Regions from separate parts of the Homo sapiens genome. Here regions 1 and 2 are each linked to region 3. The links come from fine-mapping of genetic effects on plasma protein levels. Region 3 holds a variant in brackets. A gene starts in each other region. All regions are shown on their forward strands.

Region 1 (6,282 bases), not on the chromosome of region 3:
TGAGTCAGGCCCAAGGATCAAACACACAACTCCACTGTCCACTTTTCAACGTGGTGTGTCAACGCTGGCCTCATCCTGCAGCCGCGGTGACGGTGAGCCTCGGCGGTGCTCTGTTCTGATTTTGTCAACTCTGCCGATGTGGTTTCCTTTCTATATGGCTCACAGGTTTGTGAAGCTGCAGAACTTGGGCTAAAAACCTGGGATTGATGTGGGGATCCTGCATCATTTTTCCGTAGGTTGAAGGGAACAAGTTAAAAGGAAGATGCAAGTCATCAGAATGAACAAGCCAACAAGAGGACAGAGACTCCAGAAACCTGGGGAACTACAGATTCTCGGGTCCAGCCTGGGGGTAGTCTAAAAGGAAAATCACACAGAACTTACCTAAGAAAGTCCAGGTGAACGGTGAAAACTCCTGCTCCCATGATTAAGTAGAAACTAGGAGAAAACATTAATAAGTGACTGGCAGGTGACTGATGATGTGGGGTGATTCTCAGAGTATGAACAGTGACCTGAGTTCAGTCCCAGATGATACTCAGAGTGATGGCAGAGGGGATTTCTGGAAGTCACTGCATCAACAAAGAGATATTTGACTAAACTTATGCTTGGCATATTGAGATGGGAAAATAGCTGACAAAAAGTTTTCTGGCTAAACATGAATTAGCCAGAAATAATAACTAAATTATATCATTTCTATAATGAAAATAAAATCCTTTTGCAGTTTTAGCATAGTAAAATAAATAAAAAGGAAGCCAATACTCATGATAAAGCATTTTGCTAATGGCCTAAGAGGGAAAGTTAGTTTAGAAATGTGAAAACAGCTGGAGTCTTTGGTAATTAGTTTCTCTTGCTGTTCTTTATTGTAACTTTCATCAGTGACAGGCATTTAAATTCTGAATGCATAAGCCACATTTTAGAATGGGCCCTGCATCACTTTTTAATTAAAAAAAAAAACAAAAAAACCTACATTTCCAAGAGAGGGGAACTTCTTCCTGCATCCTAGAGGAACTCTCTGGAAAGTATAGAGCTGATCACTTCCTGTCTTAACTTTGAACTGAGTGAATTACTTTTCTATCCTTTCTAACATGACAGCTCTCTGGCATTCCTGCCAGTAATAACTTTCTTGGAGACTTACAAATAAAAGACAGACATAACTCTTTCCCAGTGTTTTAAATAAATGTATTGTTTTTCTCCATAAAAATGGAACCTGATTATCTCTCCAAACTCCATTTCTAGAATTTTGAGAAACTAAAATTTGGCATTCAGGACACATGAGCTCCTCCAGATTTGAAAGGGGTTTCAAAGGCTCCAAACCTGCCTCATCTGTCAGAGTTTTGGACAAATGCATTTCATTTATCTTCCTAGAGTTCCCAGAGGATTCTGGAGTTGCTACATGAAAGACGTGTTGGGATTCTTGAATACAAGGCACGGAGGGCCAAGGATTTTCTTCTGTTCTCCATATTGCCAGAGGAAGTGACATGGATTTGCCAGTATTGCAGGTTTTAACATCTGCATTCTGTTTATGATTTTGTTGCTTAGGAGATCTGGCTAAGACATTTGGCCCCTTTGACTTTTGTTCCTCATCTGTAGAATGGGAATAATTAAGTCTGCTTCTTGTCTGCCATTCTTGCAGCGGACGATGGTGGATAAATGAACATGCTTTCAAACTTTTGAGTTCTGACGAGCAGTACTCTCAACAAAGTGGAAAGTGAAAAACAGGTTCTTTAGTAGCAAATACTTCTTAAAGGAAGTATGTCAGCTTCGAGTGTAAATTTTATTCTTTGGATAATCTTAGAATTAGTGGTATGTAGTGTTTATTTTCTTTTTACTTTAATTTTCACTGCAGTTCCCTAACAGTGATTCCTATTTACTTAATCATTTGCAGCTGCTCTGCTCACCTGTTTTTCTGGACCCAGGAGCAGTCCCTCAAGAGTTTTATTATAATTTCCTTCTAAGTCCTTAAACCAGGAGGAATGTGTTTAAGTGCTTAATAGATTCCCTGGGCTTTGGAATTTTAAGGAGAATTCTGAGAGTAGCCCTCCTTCAGGAAAAGGTGCATTTCTTTCCCGTCTTTCCGTGGCCCGACGGACATCACTTTCCTGATAAAATTGTGTGGGAAAGGTTGCAATAGCATTGCCTTTGCCTCAGCAGCCAGTCCCAGAACTTGCTGATACAGCCCCCTCCCCCAAAGTTCATAGCCAAAGCAGTGGGCTAGACATCGGATGAAACCTCAGATTTGGATTTTCTGTGTTTTGTGCTTTTCCCAATGCCCCTGACAAGTCAATTGATTCATTGTTCTTGAACAAATCTTCACTCTTCTGGCTTTCTGTGTGAGACAGAATTAGGGCTTTTTCCTGTAAAGTTATAAGCCAAGGCTAAACTATGTCAGCAATGTTGTCTGCAGTGGATATTATCCAGAGTCTGGGTGTGCAAAAATTTCCTGGTTTCCAACGTAGTCTTCGTGGGTGAGTTTACAACCTCCACAAGCCCTGTGCTCCCCGCACAAACACCTGAAATGCTTTGACAGAGCTGTTTAAAAACAGCCACATGTGTCTGTGAATGATGCCCAACCACATGCTCCCCCGACTTGAGAGGATCAAGGCTACAGCCCAGGTCAGACCCCGGATCTTTAGGACCTAAATTCCCCCATCCCTGCAGTGGATAACCCCGTGTAAAGATGCCAAAGGCGGGCTGCCCCCGGCGCAGCCTTTCCTGGACATGTGTTCCCAGCTGCCTTTGCTGGAGCGCCGCTGATCCTTCAGCACCTCTGAGAGGCAATGTTCTGGGCTGGACCAGGGGGCCTTAGAGGGCAGAGGTCAAGGAGAACCCCGGAGTCTGGGGACCGGCCAAGGCTTGGCGTTAACCTTTGTGGATGAAAAGTCCCGCTGGGCTGATCCTGCGCGGACCGGGCCTGGACCCTGGGGCGTGAGGAGGGCGCGGTGCGTCCCGTGGTTGTGCTTGGAAGCCCCCCGAGGGTGCGCGCGCGTGGGTATGAGTGCGTGCGTGTGCCTGGGTGTGCGTGTGTGTAAGTGTGCACGTGTGTGTGTGAGAGTGCGCGCGGGGAAGGAGGCACAGAGACAGCCCGGACAGGCCACTGCGCAGCCCTGGTGGCCCCCGCTCCACCTCTCGCTCCGCAGACCCGCGCCAGGGAGGCCTCTGGGCCGCAGCGGGCACCGGAGCGGAGCGGGCGCGGCAGCGGGCGCTGGGAGGTGGGGCTGGGGGAGGAGAGGGGGAGGGAGAGAGGCGGGCGGGAGGGGAGGATCCGGGAAGCTCCGGGGTATTTGACAGGAGCGAGGGCGGACGCAAAGAACGCGGAGGACCTCTGGGTGCCTGCAGGGGAGCTGCTCCAGCCGGGCCGCCGGGAGCGGTGGGGAGAGCATCGCGGAGCCGCCCCTCCACGCGCCCGCCCAGCCGCGCTCGCCCACTGGGCTCTCCCGGCTGCAGTGCCAGGGCGCAGGACGCGGCCGATCTCCCGCTCCCGCCACCTCCGCCACCATGCTGCTCCCCCAGCTCTGCTGGCTGCCGCTGCTCGCTGGGCTGCTCCCGCCGGTGCCCGCTCAGAAGTTCTCGGCGCTCACGGTAAGCCCGGGCCCGCGGGACCTGGAGCTCAAGTGGTGCCGCCTCTTGCAGCCGGCCGGGTTCGGGTCCCCGCGCCCCGCTCCAGGCCCAGGCGCCTGGGCACGGGGAGCAGGTGGCCCCGGGGGCCGTGGAGCCTTCGCCTGCCGGCGAGGCTGGAGCAGGTAGGACGCAGCGTGCGCGCCTGGGACCCGGCTGGGATGGGCTTCTGGGGACCCTGCCCGCCGGGGTCCTGCTGCGGCTGCGACGGGCTCCTCGGGTTCCACCCGGCTGGGACCCCACCTGCCTCGGGGGCTCTGACCCGGCTGTGAGAGGATCCTGGGGTCCTGCAGACCCCGGACAAGTGGGAGCTGCGGGTGCGCTCGGGTGTCCCGCACTCACTGCTGGGCCTGAGCCTGTGGGGAACCAGGTCTGGGAGCGCCGGCGCCGCCCCGCGGACTGTCCCAAGGCCAAGACAGACCCGCCGGGACTGGGCGCCCACCTCGCCCACGGGGACCCGGCCTGGAGCGTGTTCTCCCGACCGCTTTGGGCTCGTGCGCCGCGCGGATCCCGGGCCTCTCGCCGGCTGAAGGGGCTGCCAGTCGTGGGCCCCACTCGTGGGTCTGACTCTCCCAGAGACCCTCGTAAGTGAGCCGAGGAAGAAGCAGATGAGGTTACAGATGATTCTTCACGGGCCTGAGTGTTATTAGAGAAGCGCTTTCTTCCCTTCTCAGGACAGAACTGGAGGCAGGCGGCGGCTCCCCGCTCTGCGGGGCCTCTGGGTTCTTCCTCGTGGCAGGGATGCTGCGCTCCTGAGCGCGAGGGTCACCGCGGTTGACCGCTGTGTGTTTTTCTTTCTGAGCTGTAACTTCTATGCGACAGCCTTGGCCCGGCCAACGCACGCGGTGTCAAACGAGGAGCTATGTAGAGGGGGCTGAGCCAAGCCCCCGCCGGCCAAGCCAACCCGCGGCGGCCGCTGGGCCAAGGCCGGGTGTCTGCAGCCCCCAGCTCCAGCCGTCCTCCTGGGCTTGCAGGGTTTGCAAACCCATCATTAATGCAATCGCCAGAAACGAAAACATTCCACTTAAATGTGTTTTTGAACAAGTGTTTGAGAAAACACGAAGGTAGTGAGAACGCCTCTGGTGGACAGCCGTCTTTTTTAAGTGGCCGGGGACTTGTCCTAAAGGTGTTTATTGTATTGAAAATAAAGATGGTTGAAATAAGCTGTGGTCGGTTCTGCCTTTCAGCAAATTTAAAACAGTCATGTGGGCATCTTTTCTTTTTCTTTTTCTTTTTCTTCGTCTTCTTTCTTTTGCGTTTTAGCAGTGTGAAGGATGGTTTGTGAGTTCATTGCTCATACCTCAAATTCTTCTGCAGCAGCCCGGGGTCCCTGCCTTGTGTCTCACAAATGACTTGTAGATTAGAAACTGCTAACTGGGGCTCCAAGGAGGTTTTCACACACTCAGGCTTTCCCTGAAGATCCTTTATCTCCCCAGAGGGGGCCCTCAGAGGATACTCACTGGAGGCATTCATGTATATGCACATCTGTACATGCATCTAGACATAAATATACTCACGTATACACTCACAAAAAGACCCCCCACATACTCTTAAAGCACACTAGAGGAGACAGAGAAACTAAGGCCAATTCTCCAAAGGAGATCATAGCATTTTCTTCCAGGACTGTAGCAGCAGGTACCTACAGTTGCCACGGATTTTCAGATTTTCTGAAAGCGCAAAAAGTAGAGACTGCCATCTGCCTGCTGCCCTGTGTGTGTGGGGGGTGGGGTTGGGCCTGTTGGTCCCCCCTGGAAGAGCAGAATCAAGGTAGTTAGTAATTAGAACAGTTTAAGACTCGGCAGGTTTTCTTGTCTTCTCTCCCCTGTCTCATCTAACTATTTACTTGAACCCTCTCACCTTTTGCCCCCTTGAGGTTGCCCCAAGGATGTCTTGGGTTGCGGTGAGACCCGCTGCATGTGGGGTCTCTGTGCAGGAGCTGATACCCCACGTGGGCTTTGCCCTGTTGGCTGCATTCCCCAAGAACAGTTTGCCTGAAATTTACATTTGCAAATAAAATCAGTATCCCGAAGAAAAGATTAAAGCCATAACACATTTTGGCACACTTCTTCTCACCCCACCCCCAGTCTAGAAAATCAAGAAGTAGTTGAGTTACAAAGTAACTGAGGCAGGCCTGAAATCTGACTGGTCGCTGGGAGATGTGAGATGTGCAGGATTTTTCAGTGTGCTCATCTCTTTTCAAATTGCCTTCTGGTTTTTGGAAATCTCTTTTGTCTCCGGAGGCCCTCATTCAAAGAAGGGCCTTCTCTCCCTACGATTTGCATCCTACCTACTTTAATAAATCAAGAGGCAGTATCAGTCCATGCAGTGGGTGGGACCCACAGCTTAGGGTCTTGCTGGATGTGTGACTTCAGGCAAGTTACTTAATTTCATAATCTTCAGTCCCCTTATCTGTAAAATGAGAATACATAATCTCTTTCAAGCATGTGGTGAGGATTAAAGGTAGGGCTTTTAATGCGCCTACTATATGTGAGTTCTCCAGCTAACATTGTTTTGATGGTGCCCATGCCGTGGGTCCGTATAAGAGAGTGCTATCAATTGATACCGTAATTATCAATGCATATAGCGTTGTGGCATTAAGGTGTGTGTGGATTCAACTTTGCAGTATTTTCACCTGCCGCAGATTCTCAGAGCACACCACTTGGCTCTGGG
Region 2 (6,282 bases), not on the chromosome of region 3:
AAAGGCAAGGAGTGTTTGCTTCTATACATGTAATTGTATGTATATTTCTCATTATCTATGTGGACAAAACTTAACCAGTTCTTCAAGAAGGTAACATAAAGGATTGGATTGTCAAATCAGTATCACAAGCATCCTCAGAGATTTCACCCAGTATCATGCTTTACTCATAATTTCAGTTATACAATAATTGTGAGATGCAGACAAAACAGTGGAAAACCCAGGCCTGCAAAAGCACCCACTCATTCTTACTTTCCCCTTAGGACACACTCTGGCCCAGACAAACAGATAAACATATGAGGTCTCTTAATGGTGTTTGTGGCTGCACCGTTTACACAAAAGGAGATGTTTTGGTTATGACACATCTCCATTTTATACTCAGATGGTTACATGGTTATGGTTACACATAGCTTATGTGACATTTTTCCAGGAAGCCAGCCTCCATAAACCCACAGATTCTAGTTTTATGCTTTTTTTTTATATAGTGTGTTTTGCTCTTGTCACCCAGGCTGGAGTGCAATGGTGCGATCTCAGCTCATCAAGTTCAAGAGACTCTAATGCCTCAGCCTCCCAAGTAGCAGGGGTTACAGGTGAGTGCCACCATGCCCGACTAATTTTGTATTTTTAGTAGAGACAGGGTTTCTCCATGTTGGCCAGGCTGGCCTTGAACTCCTGACCTCAGGTGATCCACCTGCCTTGGCCTCCAAAAGAGCTGAGATTACAGGCGTGAGCCACTATGCCCAGCCTTAGTTTTATTTTTTTATTTGATTTTACCACTAACAATTTTAGACAATCTAATACATCCTGCTAAAATCATTCCATTGATAAGGATTTTGCAAGCAAAACACACTATATATAAGAAACCACTATAGCTAGTAGGTTTGTTATTAGCATGTTTACAATGAGATTTTACCAGGTCAGTAACGTCTTTTGTTTTTTCTCAGGGAGCCCTCTCTCTCTGTTAAAAGAATAATTTGCAGCCTGATGTGAGCAATTTTCTTTCCGCTCAAAGAATGCATTTTCTAAAAGCAGTGAGATCAAAATAAATTTTTCCCTTGGGGATACTAGAACGTATACTGTTATTTTGTTCTGCAACATTTTAGTTATACATTTTTAGGTAGGGAAAAGACTTCACTGTTTATATGTTAAGTGAACATTAGTTTCTTTTCCCTGGCTTTTGACTAAGGTTTAAAAGTTGACTTAGCTATTGAAGTCATCACTTGCTCTTACCAAGGGCACTAGTAAATTGCAGGGGAGGAAGAGGGCATCTTCCTGCAATGGATACTAGGGGATGGAAAGTCCTGCAAAGAGAGACGTTCTTTTGGCAGGATACCTAACTTTTCAAAAGCAAATTTATGTAAGTGAAGCTGGATATTTCAGCGGAATTTAGTCTGGTTTCTCTCGGCAGCACACTCAGAGAATACTTTGAGTAGAAACTTTATTTGGAATTGTGTATGCAATAAATGTAGGAAAGGAAATGTAATAGGAAAGGGAAAGTGGAACGCAATAAAGGTTATTTTCTTAATCTAGCTTCTAGAGGAGGTGACTGGAACATAACACTATTGAGTAATTCTGGGAACTGGGCAAAACACAATGTTCAGAATTACCTGACTTTAGGGCTGAGACTGCTGGACTGTATAGCAAATCACAAGATTCGTTTGTTGACGCCCATTCTGGTGATGATTATTCAGCACTTCCGGATTAGCATGTCTGAGAACAGCAAGGCTTTCAGCAGTTATTGGAGAAAAAAAGAACCCATAGATACAGCTATACAGATAACTAGTTGGCCATAGTTCCCCAAATATTCCAAGGGACATAGGCGAGGCAATGATAACTTCAGGAACAAGTGGAGATGAGTGGGAGAGATACAGTACATGGAAATCATTCACCTGTCTACGTACAAAAATAAATAGAAAGAACAGAGGCCGGGCACGGTGGCTCACGCCTGTAATCCCAGCACTTTGGGAGGCCGAGGCGGGCGGATCACGAGGTCAGGAGATCGAGACAATCCTGGCTAACACGGTGAAACCCCGTCTCTACTAAAAAAAAAAAATACAAAAAATTAGCTGGGCGTGGTGGCGGGAGCCTGTAGCCCCAGCTACTCGGTAGGCCGAGGCAGGAGAATGGCGTGAACACGGGAGGCGGAGCTTGCAGTGAGCCGAGTGAGCCACTGCACTCCAGCCTGGGTGACAGAGACTCCATCTCAAAAAACAAACAAACAAAAACAAACAAAAAAAGAACAATCAGAGTTGGCAGCTCAGAAAGAGTTAAAGAGGTATATACATATATGTTTACTGTGTGTGTGTATGTGTGTGTGTGTGTGTGTGTTTAGGTATCTTAAATATTTAAGCCTGGAGTTCTTGAAGTAAACTTGTATTTGTTGGATTTTTATTTCTAAGTCAGTGAACTAAGATGAAAAAAAGGACAATGACTGATGGACGTATTCTCACCAAACAGGGTTCTAAAAACTTAGAACCTCTAACTTCCAAATAAAGGTGGTTGTGTTAGTAATGAAAGTGTAGTAATAATCCCTATTGCACATTCTGTCATAAATTTGTACTCTCTCAAGAGAAAAACTAAAAGCAAACCCCTAATCTCCTATATTTTGAGGCAATTTTACATGGGGGAAAAATAGTATCAGACAGGTTTCTTCCAGACCAGCTTTTTCTAACACTAAAAATGAATAGATTTCAAGTAAGCAAAGGATTTTTAAATAAATCACTTCAACTAAGATTTGCATACAGTCTGGATGAAGTAGATTTTACGCTTATATTCTTCAGTGAGGATTTATAGCTCAACAAATTTGTTGGTGCAATGAAAGCAGCTCTAGGCACACAATGCAAACTGAAAAGATGGAAAGTTTTGACTTCATAAAAACTGAGAAGTCAAAGTAGTCTTTTCTTTCATTTTTTTCTGTTGTTGGTTGAAAGCCCATCTTTTACAAAAGGGTTTATCTATAGTAATATTATAATGCTTGAACATAAACAATATACAAAATATAATACACAAAACGTTTATTTGAGTGTCTGCTTTTGTATGGGGGTGCATGGTAGATTGTATTTCCAGATACTAAATCATGGATCGAAATCTCTCCTTTCAAGATTCTTATTATAGCCAATCTCTTCCACATTGGAAATTTGACCTGTTCCACATTTGATATTCCTATTAACAAGGTTACTCTTCTGTAGATGAAAAAGTGTATATCGAAGTATCAGTATAGTATCTGAATTAGATAACACACTAAACAATATAATAATGTATTAGTAAAAATAAGGAAAATAAAGAAGCTGAAGTCGTGCTTAAAGAACTTTAAGAAAATGAAAATTGAGGTGTTGAAAAAAGCTTTTAAGGCTAACGTGAATGAGGCGTCCAAGTGGGAAACCCATCCAGTTCTACTTTTTTGAACTTTGCCTGTCGTGGCCAGGATAATTAGGTAGAGATCAGAAGAACAGAGTGAGACATGGAAATCCCAATTTATGTGACCTTGGGCAAATTACTTAGCTCTGTATGCCTCAGTTTTCTCTTTGATAGATTGAAGATATTTATATATCTTTACTATCAAGCCATTTACAGAAATAAATGAGCTAAGATATGCCAAGTGCTTTAAATTGTGTTAAGTACAAGGTAAATAATAAATGTTTATTATTAAAAGAGGAAAATTCTGTAAGTAATTTTGTTATGCTAAGTAAATTTACCTTTGGTTTGCCCATCATTTCCTTCATTTTCCAGATAACCCTTTAAAATGAATTTGATTTTCAAACAATAAAAAACAAAACAGCAACAAAACTCCCTCTGACCTCCTCTCACCTTCTTTAGTCCTTGCCAAAGTGTTAATATTGCAAAAGTACTGTGAGAATTTCCTGTATTGTGGTTCCTGGAACACTTCAGAGGCTTGTGATTCTACTGCTTCTTATTCACACTATAATACATGTCTCACCAATAGATGATTCAAGAACATCATTTAAATACACAATTTTTCATTCTCTATTTTTGCTAAATTTCTTCATACTCAACTTTCAGATTCTTTAATCTCCAGCTCAGCTTCAACAATTCAACGCTGTTCTTTCTGAAAAAGTACACATCGTGCCTTCTCTACTTCGCTCTTGGAACATAATTTCTCATGGCAGGTATGTGTGATTTCAGTCACTAAATTAAAAATAACCAGAAAAGCTATTTCTTGGATTGGCTGATTTTGGGGTAATGCTTTAAGAGAAAAGGACATGATTAACAGTGGATGTTTTTAGGATTTTCATGCATTAGCACTTTCCACATTCATTATATTTTCCTGATTCTTCATTGTATAACTTAGACATGATTTCATGAAGTTTTTTCCACAGGTTTGAAGAGTGGTTTCTGACAGGGCTACCTTTAAATTCTGAGTGAGAACTGAACTTTAGCCTGGTTAAATTGTGAGCAACAGTGTTCTAGTATAGCAATAGAAAATGCCAAATATTAATGACACAATGCTGAAAAGGTTTTAATTGACTATTTATGTTGTGACATCCAAAAATTACACAAATGAACAGTTTGACACATTGTACTGTTGTTAATGACATCACTCTTTGAGAGTGTGTTCACGTTAGCACAGAATCTCCTAATGTTGAAATGTTTTAGGTGAAAGGCCTAAAAGCAAGTAATTTTGAGTATGAACAAATGGAATGTTCTAGGGGAAAAAGGATTGTTTATGTATGTTCAATATACTGTGAAATGAAGCCAGGCCTCAAAGTTGTTACCCATCAATTTGTTATCAGTTATCACACCAAGTCCAGAATGTTCCTATGTCTTCTTTTCCCTATAATATCTCTACGAACCAATGAGCAGCTAGACATTTATCAGAGCAAAACCTGCACTGAGATGAGGAGAGGGCATACTCTCAACTAGTATTATTGTGACAATGGTAGACTACGTTGAATGAAAGATTCTTGAGCTAGACACACTTTCATGTGATTTCTGACTTGGATACTTACTTGCTTTGATACCTTGAGAAAATAACATTATTATTGGACCTTATGTTTTCTCATCTATGTAATGAGAACCATACTATCTATCTTGTGATTTTGTTGAGAGAATAAAAATAAATGCCTGTTATGTAAGTCCATAAAACACAACGTGGTGCTTGTTAATATCTTCTACCTCCAGATCTTTAAGCACCTCTGCCAATTTAAAATAAATGGTAAATTCACTTTACTGCAACAGAGCTGGTAGAGAAGAAAATGTTTGAATAATCTTCCTGAAGAATAAGATACATCACATAAAAATGTTGGTATTGGGTGAAGTCCCGATTGGAAAGTCTTCAGTGTTTTATTGGCAAGATGACTCCGTTATCAAATGAAAGAATGTTGTGGATTCTCCGTCACTAGTTTCTGCTTTTAAGAACTCAGCTCCTGAGTTTGCTCTTTAAGTCATTACTCTGTCTGTCTTTCTCTACAGTGTTTAAGACCACTCTGTGGAGGTTAATTTCTGGGACCTTAGGGATAATATGCCTTTCGTTGATGTCTACGTTGGGAATTTTGTTGAAAAATTGTAAGTTTTTCTAAGCAAGTCTCCATAAAAATCAAAACTGTGAAGACATCATTTAATAATAAAGGCTTCATCTTGCTAATGTGTAATATTTTAGTATTTCATAAACCCATACCTAATTAAACAAATTTCTAATCATTTCTTATAGCTTTTACTAAACTGAGTATTGAGCCAGCATTTACTCCAGGACCCAACATAGAACTCCAGAAAGGTAGGTCACATTTTTTGGAAAACTTAGCATTGGTAAAAGATTAAATAGGCAGTTTCTTGTTTTTCACACAGAGAGGCATGATGGAATATTATACTTAGTAATAGAAATTTGCCTACCAGTGTAGGATAGTCTCATTTTACATTGCTCAATCTAATGTAAAAATGATTAAATTACACTGAATGTGTATCATTTGTACATTTAACTAATCAGGAAAATAGTAGCCTGAAACGAAAGATATGTTTCCTATATGAGTGCTCATAATTAAGTAACAAAAAATAAACCACAGGAAATGTTACAGTTAATCCTCATTACCTGCCTGAATTTGCTTATAACCTATACTTTTGCATCTCACTACTTTTCCTTTTCCAGAATATACTGCACAGATTTCTAAACCTTACTTATCCAGTGAAAGCCAGCTCAAAGTCCAATTTTCGTTTTTGGAGATGGAGTTTTGCTCTTGTCGTCCAGGCTGGAGTGCAGTGGCACGATCTTGGCTCACTGCCACATCAGCCTCCCTGGTTCAAGTGATTCTCCCACCTTCCTGCCTCAGCCTC
Region 3 (6,282 bases):
CTTTATTATACTGATAAGTAAATTCCATTTTAATCAGGTGGCAGGTAGCAATGTGCCACTGTCCTAGGAAAGCAATCATGATTGGCCTAAGCCAATATGAGCAACTTGTCTTTTTTTTTTTTTTTTTTTTTTTTGAGGTAAGGTATTGCTCATTGCCCAGGCTCGAGGGCAGTGGCATCATCATGGCTCACTGCAGCCTCAACTTCCCTGACAAAGCAGTCCTCCCACTTCACCTCCTGAGTAGCTGGAACTACAGGTCCACACCACCACACCCAGCTAATATTTTTTTGGTTTTAGAGATGGGGTCTCACTATGTTGCCCAGGCTGGTCTTGAACTCCTGAGCTCAAGCAATCTTCCTGTCTTGGCCTCCCCAAATTCTGGCATTACAGGCGTGAGCCACTGTCCCTGACCTTTATTTTTATGTATCGGTATTTTTGTTATTTCTTGGCCATTGATTGGTCTAGAGATGGCATGCTCTGGCAATGAAAGACAAGGAGAGGTCCTGAAGAGACTCTGGACAAGGTTTCCCTCTGTAATAAAATGGAAGAGGCATGTGAATGAGTCACATTTTCTGCCTGTCTCATGATTCTGGCTCGGGAGGGCCTGTTGATGCAATGTCCAGAACAGTGGCAGCCATTCTGTGGTCACTTTCAAGAAAGCCCTAGAAGAAAACCAATATGATGATGGAGTGGAAGGGTGACATTAAACTCAATTTTTGTTCAAACTCCAGATCTATCCCCTTCCAAAACTTTTTTTAATAATAAATTTCTCCATGGCTTATGTGCTTCATTGGTTTACTCTACCTTATCACTGAAAACATCCAGTGAATCAGAGAGAAAATAGAAAATAGTTGACTCTTGTTTTGTGGCTCTCCACTGTTTTTCATGGTTCTATTCCTTGGGCTTGAGAACAACATTCTGATGGTGTTTAAAAACTCAGAAAGAGCCCATCTCCTTAGATCAGTAGTCCATAGAGCATCTCCCTAGGGGCAGAAGGTTAGGGGGTTAATCTCGGCAATGGTGTGGAGTGTACAGTGTCTCTCATTTACCTTCCTTACCTCTCTACATGCTCCTAGTTACTGCTTCTCTTTGTAACTCTGAGGTATGAAATACCTCAAAGCATATTTGATTTTGTCACAGATTTCTGGCACAGGGCTCTTAAAACCCTTGGAATTCCCTGAGTGATAGGAGTATTATTTGTTATTCATAAACAGCCCCTTTTGATCATAGCTGAGTTTATGCTAAGGAGATCATGGCCTTAGGATGGGACTGGTCACCAGAAAGACCAAGGGATTAGAGGGTTGGAGCTGTCAGCCCCACCTACTGATCTCCAGGAAGGGGAGGCAGGGACTGGAGATTGAGTTCCATAAAAACTCTTGAACAATGAGATTTGATGAGCTTCCACATTGGTGAACACTCAGGAGTGCTGGGAGAGTGGCTGCCTGAAGAGAGCATGGAAGCTCCATGCACCACCCAACCCCTTCCCTGCCATATACCTGCCATATGCCTCTTTCCAATGGACTATTCCTGAGGTATATTCCTTATATAAAGCAACAGATGCAAACAAAGTGCTTTCCTGAGTTCTGTGTGCCATTCTAGCAATTTATTGGTGTCATTGGAACACCCAATTTATAGCCTGTCAGTCAGAAGTACAAGTAGCCACCTGGGACTTGCAACAGATGTCTGATCTGATCTGAGAACAGTTTGTGGGAGTGAGCCCTTTAGCTTTTCGGATCTGAGCTGAATCCAGGTAGACAGCATCATAACCGAATTTTTAATTGCAGGTGGCCCAGGTGGTGTCCCCAGAGAATTGGAGAATTTCTTGGTGTAGAGAAAAAGTATATTTGGTCAGAAGGATTGTGAAAGTAGAGAATCGAGTTTTTGTTTCACCGTGCATCTTTGTTTTTTTATTGTTTTTCCTCTCATTCTTCTCACCTTGGTAATTGTTTCTTTCATTTTCCTGAATCTCTGAAAAGAAAGGGCCTGGACTCTCAGATTTCTTGGCCTTTGATATTTGGAAGGATGAACTCCAGTCTCCCACAGAAGGCTAGAGGTGAAGGAACATTCAGACACATAAGTTTCCAAGATAAATCGTCTGAGAACATCTCCAAGGTGTCTTCTGGGAATGGTAAGAAACCCTGAGTTTGTGTCACTGGATTGATTCCAGCTCCATTGTCCCCGTGTCCTTCAACTAAGTCTCTGCTGAAGCCTGTTCTATAAAAACAGCAAGTAAGTGGTTTGGACTGACCTATTGTACTAGGTTCGACAAAGCAAACCAAATGGAGTCAGTCATACTAAAACTCCACATCACCAAACCAAAACTAATGTATCTGAACTTTTGAGAAATCAGGAGAGAGAGAAAATGGACAAATTCCTAAAACAGGCCAGTTTCAGTGGGCATGAACATGAAGTTCTGTCTGCTTTCATCTTTACAAAAAAAAAAAAAAAGCAATCTGTGGTAACTTGACTTCAATCAATCAGTTGTTCCTTATTGCTGTCTCTCTATTCCTGCTGCACAAAAAAAATGCAACATCCA[G/A]ATGACCAATCAGGTTTTTGTTCTCTGTTTCTGCTTTCTTTAGCCCTCCTATCCCTGTAAAACCAACTTCCTTGGCTCTAACTATCAAAACACTCATTTTGTTTTATAGCATGACAGGCTGTCTGATTCCATCTTTATAACCAAAGCCAATTAAGATCTTAAAACCAAACATATAACTTCATCTTTTTACAAGTACTTAGAGCCTGAGTTGCTCCACAGGAATCCAGGAACTGGGCACAGGAAAAGGATCTAAGCTGGTGGTAAGTTGGGGTCTGAAAATTTTAAAGTTATTGTTGAAATGCCTGCTATATGACAGAGCCCTTCTAACTCTGGAGTAGCGTAGTCCAGTGAAGAATCCACTTCGTTAGTATGAAAACAATGTTAACTATTTCATTAACAGTGTTTAATTTGGTTACATGTTCCAGTAACATTCTTTTTTTTTTTTTTTTTTTTTTTTTTTTTGATGGAGTCTTGCGCTGTCACCCAGGCTGGAGTGCAGTGGCACAATCTCAGCCCACTGCAACCTCTGCCTCCCAGGTTCAAGCGATTCTCCTGCCTCAGCCTCCTGAGTAGCTGGGATTACAGGCACCTGCCACCACGCCTGGCTAATTTTTTGTATTTTTAGTAGAGACGGGGTTTCAATATGTTGGCCAGGCTGGTCTTCAACTCCTGACCTCGTGATCTGCCCACCTCGGCCTCCCAAAGTGCTGGGATTACAGGCGTGAGCCAATGTGACTGGCCAATTCTTTATCATATATGTAATTAAATAAAATTTATTACTAAAATAATTTCCCCAAAGGTGTTTTACTTTTTTAAAAACAGTGGCTACAAAAAAATTTTGAGTCCCATATGTAGCTAAAGTTAACACATTATATTTCTACTGGACATGTAGCATTGTAGAGATGTAGCATTGAAGGATCTTGATAGTCCTGTGGAGCTTACGTACTAGTGTGGAGGGTATTTAAGAGAGAAGATAAATGAACAAACAAATAAAGGAGAAAAGTATCTGGTGAGATAGGCTGTACCTGAGCATTCTGCTTTGCAGAGTGGGTGAGGTGGGATCTCTCTGAAATAATATTTGACCTGAAATATGAATATTCAGGATGAGCCAGGTGCAGGAAGCTCAAGACGAAGAGCACGGTAGGCAGAAGGAATAGAGAAAGCAGAAGCCCTGAGATGACAAAGAGCTGCAAGTTCAAGGAATTAGAGCCCAGTGGGTGGAGCCCAGTGTGTCTGATGAGAGTGCAGAGATGAGGTCTGAGGGATGCACAGGGCACATGTGGCAGTGGATAAGGGAACCTAGGATAAGGGAACCTAAGATAAGGGTAACTTAGAAGTCTGGAAGCCATCGGAAGGTATTGCGAATAACATCACCATCTTATTGGACCTTTTTAAAGCTCATTTGGTTTCTGTCTGGAGAATGGATCTTAGGGGAGGGGGCAGCAGGACCAGGAAAAAGCTATTTGCAAGGCTTGTGCAAATATCCAAGCCTGACAGGGCCATGGACACCGGTCGTGGAGATGGCAATGGCTCTGGCTGTGCATTCAGCATGTTCTGTAGATAGAATGAGTAAGACGTGGATGGCGTTGGGTGGTGAGGAAAAGAGAAATGAAAGGTGAGTTCTAGATCTGGAGCTTTAACAACTGAATATTTAATCTCCAAATAGATACAGAATATTGGAAGAGTGGCAGGTCTGGGAGGCAGAGAACATCAACAGTTTGGTAAAACCATGTGAGGTTTGGAGTCTATGGGACTCCCACGGGGAGAGGTTTTATCAGACTTGAGTGCCAGGGAGAGGCCACGGCTGATAATTTAGATGAAAAGACAGCATAATGGTTTAATCCCAGAGACTGGATGATATCATTTATAGAATGTGAGATACCCCAACATTTAGAGTCAAATTTAGAATAGAAAACACCGTAAATTGGACTAAAAAGAGGAAGAGAATCGAGCTGTAGAGACGACCAAGAGTGTATTGTGTGCACATATCTCTTGGATATATCTCATGGCATAGGAAAAATGTGTTTGAAAAGGGAGAAAGTGATCCAATGGGTCCTGTGTCATTGGGATATCAGGTCTTAAAAACTGAGAAGGACTCACTGGATTTGGCAGCCTGGGGGTCATAAGCATCCTTGGGAAAATGCATTAGGTGGAGTGCTAAGGACAGAAGTCAATGTGGAGTGGATTAAGGAGAACAGCTGAGGCGAAGAAGGAAAAGGAAGAATTAGAGACATTCTCTTTGGATGTTTGGCTGGAAATTCTGTCTTACAGACAGACCTTACAGAGAGGTCATTTGGCTAGATAGGGTTGAAGCTGGAAAGAAATATGCTTCAAAGGAGGTTTCTCTTGAAAGAGAGGGGGCGTGATTATGTGATAGAATGATCTAGTAGAAATACAATTTTCAATTTTTTTGGTATAAAAAATGATCTTTTATCCCTCACCACATCCCACCTCAATCTAAGTCTTAACTTTCTCGTCTGTACAATGGTTATACAAATTAAAACTAACATTAATCAATATTCACCGTGTCTCAGGGTGTGTTGAGTGCTTACACATATTAACACATCCCATCCACAGAGCCTATGAGAGGAGTTGTGAGGGTTAAGGGAGAAGCTCTTGGTGTGTGGATAATGTTCATAAGTAGAAGCTACTATTGCTATAAGCATCGTTCTTGTCCTGACCCTGAGCTTCATAGTGCAGGGTTCGGGATTGTACCCCACAACACAACACACAGCCTGGTGAGGGCTAAGAGTTCTAATTTGTTACAGATTTACCGACCTATCCTAGATGATTTCCATGTCTATTCTTTTTTTTTTTTTTTTTTTTTTTGAGACGGAGTCTCGCTCTGTTGCCAAGCTGGAGTGTAGTGGTGCAATCTCAGCTCACTGCAACCTCTGCCTCCTGGGTTCAAGCGATTCCCCCACCTCAGCCTCCAGTCCATGTCTATTCTATTTAATCCTCCCCTGAAAATCAGTCTTTATCAAAAAACCATTTCAGTTCTGCAGAGGGGAAAATGGGGGCTCAAAGAGATGTCACTGATCAAGAATTTACACCATCGAGGTGTCAGAGATAAGATCAGAGTAGAGATCTAACTGACTCCAAAGCCTGGTACTCTTTACACTGTTACAGTGACACCCAACTGGCAGGGGGAGGGGGTGGGAGGTATTTTGCCTCCCAGGGGATCTTTGACAATGTCTTTTGGTTGTCACTCCTGAATGGGGAGTTGCTACTGGCATCTCTGGATAGCGGCCAGGGGTGCCGCTAAACATCCTACTGTGTACAGAACAGTCCACCACAACAAAGAATTAACCAGCCCAAAATGCCATTGGTGTCAAAGCTGAGAAACCCTGAGCTACACTAAACAATGTCCCTGGGAAGACCTCAGTGAAAGTGACTGATAATGATAGGAAAAAAGAAGGAAATGAGTAAAAGAAATAGGAGAAAAAATTTATTATACGAGGGCAGGACCCTATCCTGGTAATTTTGGAAGAACGCCTTTCAATGGCAGCACTTGAGCGTGCAAAGGTAGTGGCTCTGTTCGGTCTGGTTTACAAATCTTCCTGTCTCCACTGACTGGCTAGGTATGATGCTGAAAAAACTACAGGAGTCCCTGGGCCATGGATTCTCCCTAGTAAAAAAGGGATGATGATGGCTGCCTCACAGTGTTATTATGAGTATTAGATGTAAACAAGTGCTACATAATTGCTATCATTCTTAAAGAGGCTAAATAGCCCAGGGTGGGAAGA

Which allele goes with the higher level. Alleles are on the strand shown, and positions count from the first base shown. The strength of an association depends on the size of the effect and on how common the allele is.
For the plasma level of the protein whose gene starts at base 3,306 in region 1, G is the high allele of the variant in region 3 and A is the other (moderate association).
In carriers of allele A in region 3, the plasma level of the protein whose gene starts at base 3,910 in region 2 tends to be lower than with G alone (weak association).

The links. PIP is the posterior inclusion probability: the model's chance that the variant is causal. The UK Biobank Pharma Proteomics Project read protein levels with antibody pairs (Olink). The fine-mapping took linkage between variants from a reference panel, not from the people measured, so its PIPs are less certain.
Region 1: SMOC2 starts here. The variant in region 3 is fine-mapped to the plasma level of the SMOC2 protein (UK Biobank, PIP above 0.99).
Region 2: it holds the start of KLRD1, and the variant in region 3 is fine-mapped to the plasma level of the KLRD1 protein (UK Biobank, PIP above 0.99).

Annotation. Positions count from the first base shown.
Region 1 is chr6:168,437,879-168,444,160 of GRCh38, forward strand. SMOC2 (SPARC related modular calcium binding 2) reads left to right here and starts at 3,306. Exons shown (of 13, transcript NM_001166412.2): 1 at 3,306-3,576. The coding sequence starts at 3,493.
Region 2 is chr12:10,303,961-10,310,242 of GRCh38, forward strand. KLRD1 (killer cell lectin like receptor D1) reads left to right here and starts at 3,910. Exons shown (of 6, transcript NM_002262.5): 1 at 3,910-4,124; 2 at 5,428-5,520; 3 at 5,666-5,728. The coding sequence starts at 4,118.
Region 3 is chr19:51,792,536-51,798,817 of GRCh38, forward strand. FPR3 (formyl peptide receptor 3) reads left to right here and starts at 2,622. Exons shown (of 2, transcript NM_002030.5): 1 at 2,622-2,796. The variant G/A (reference allele first, on the strand shown) is at 2,537.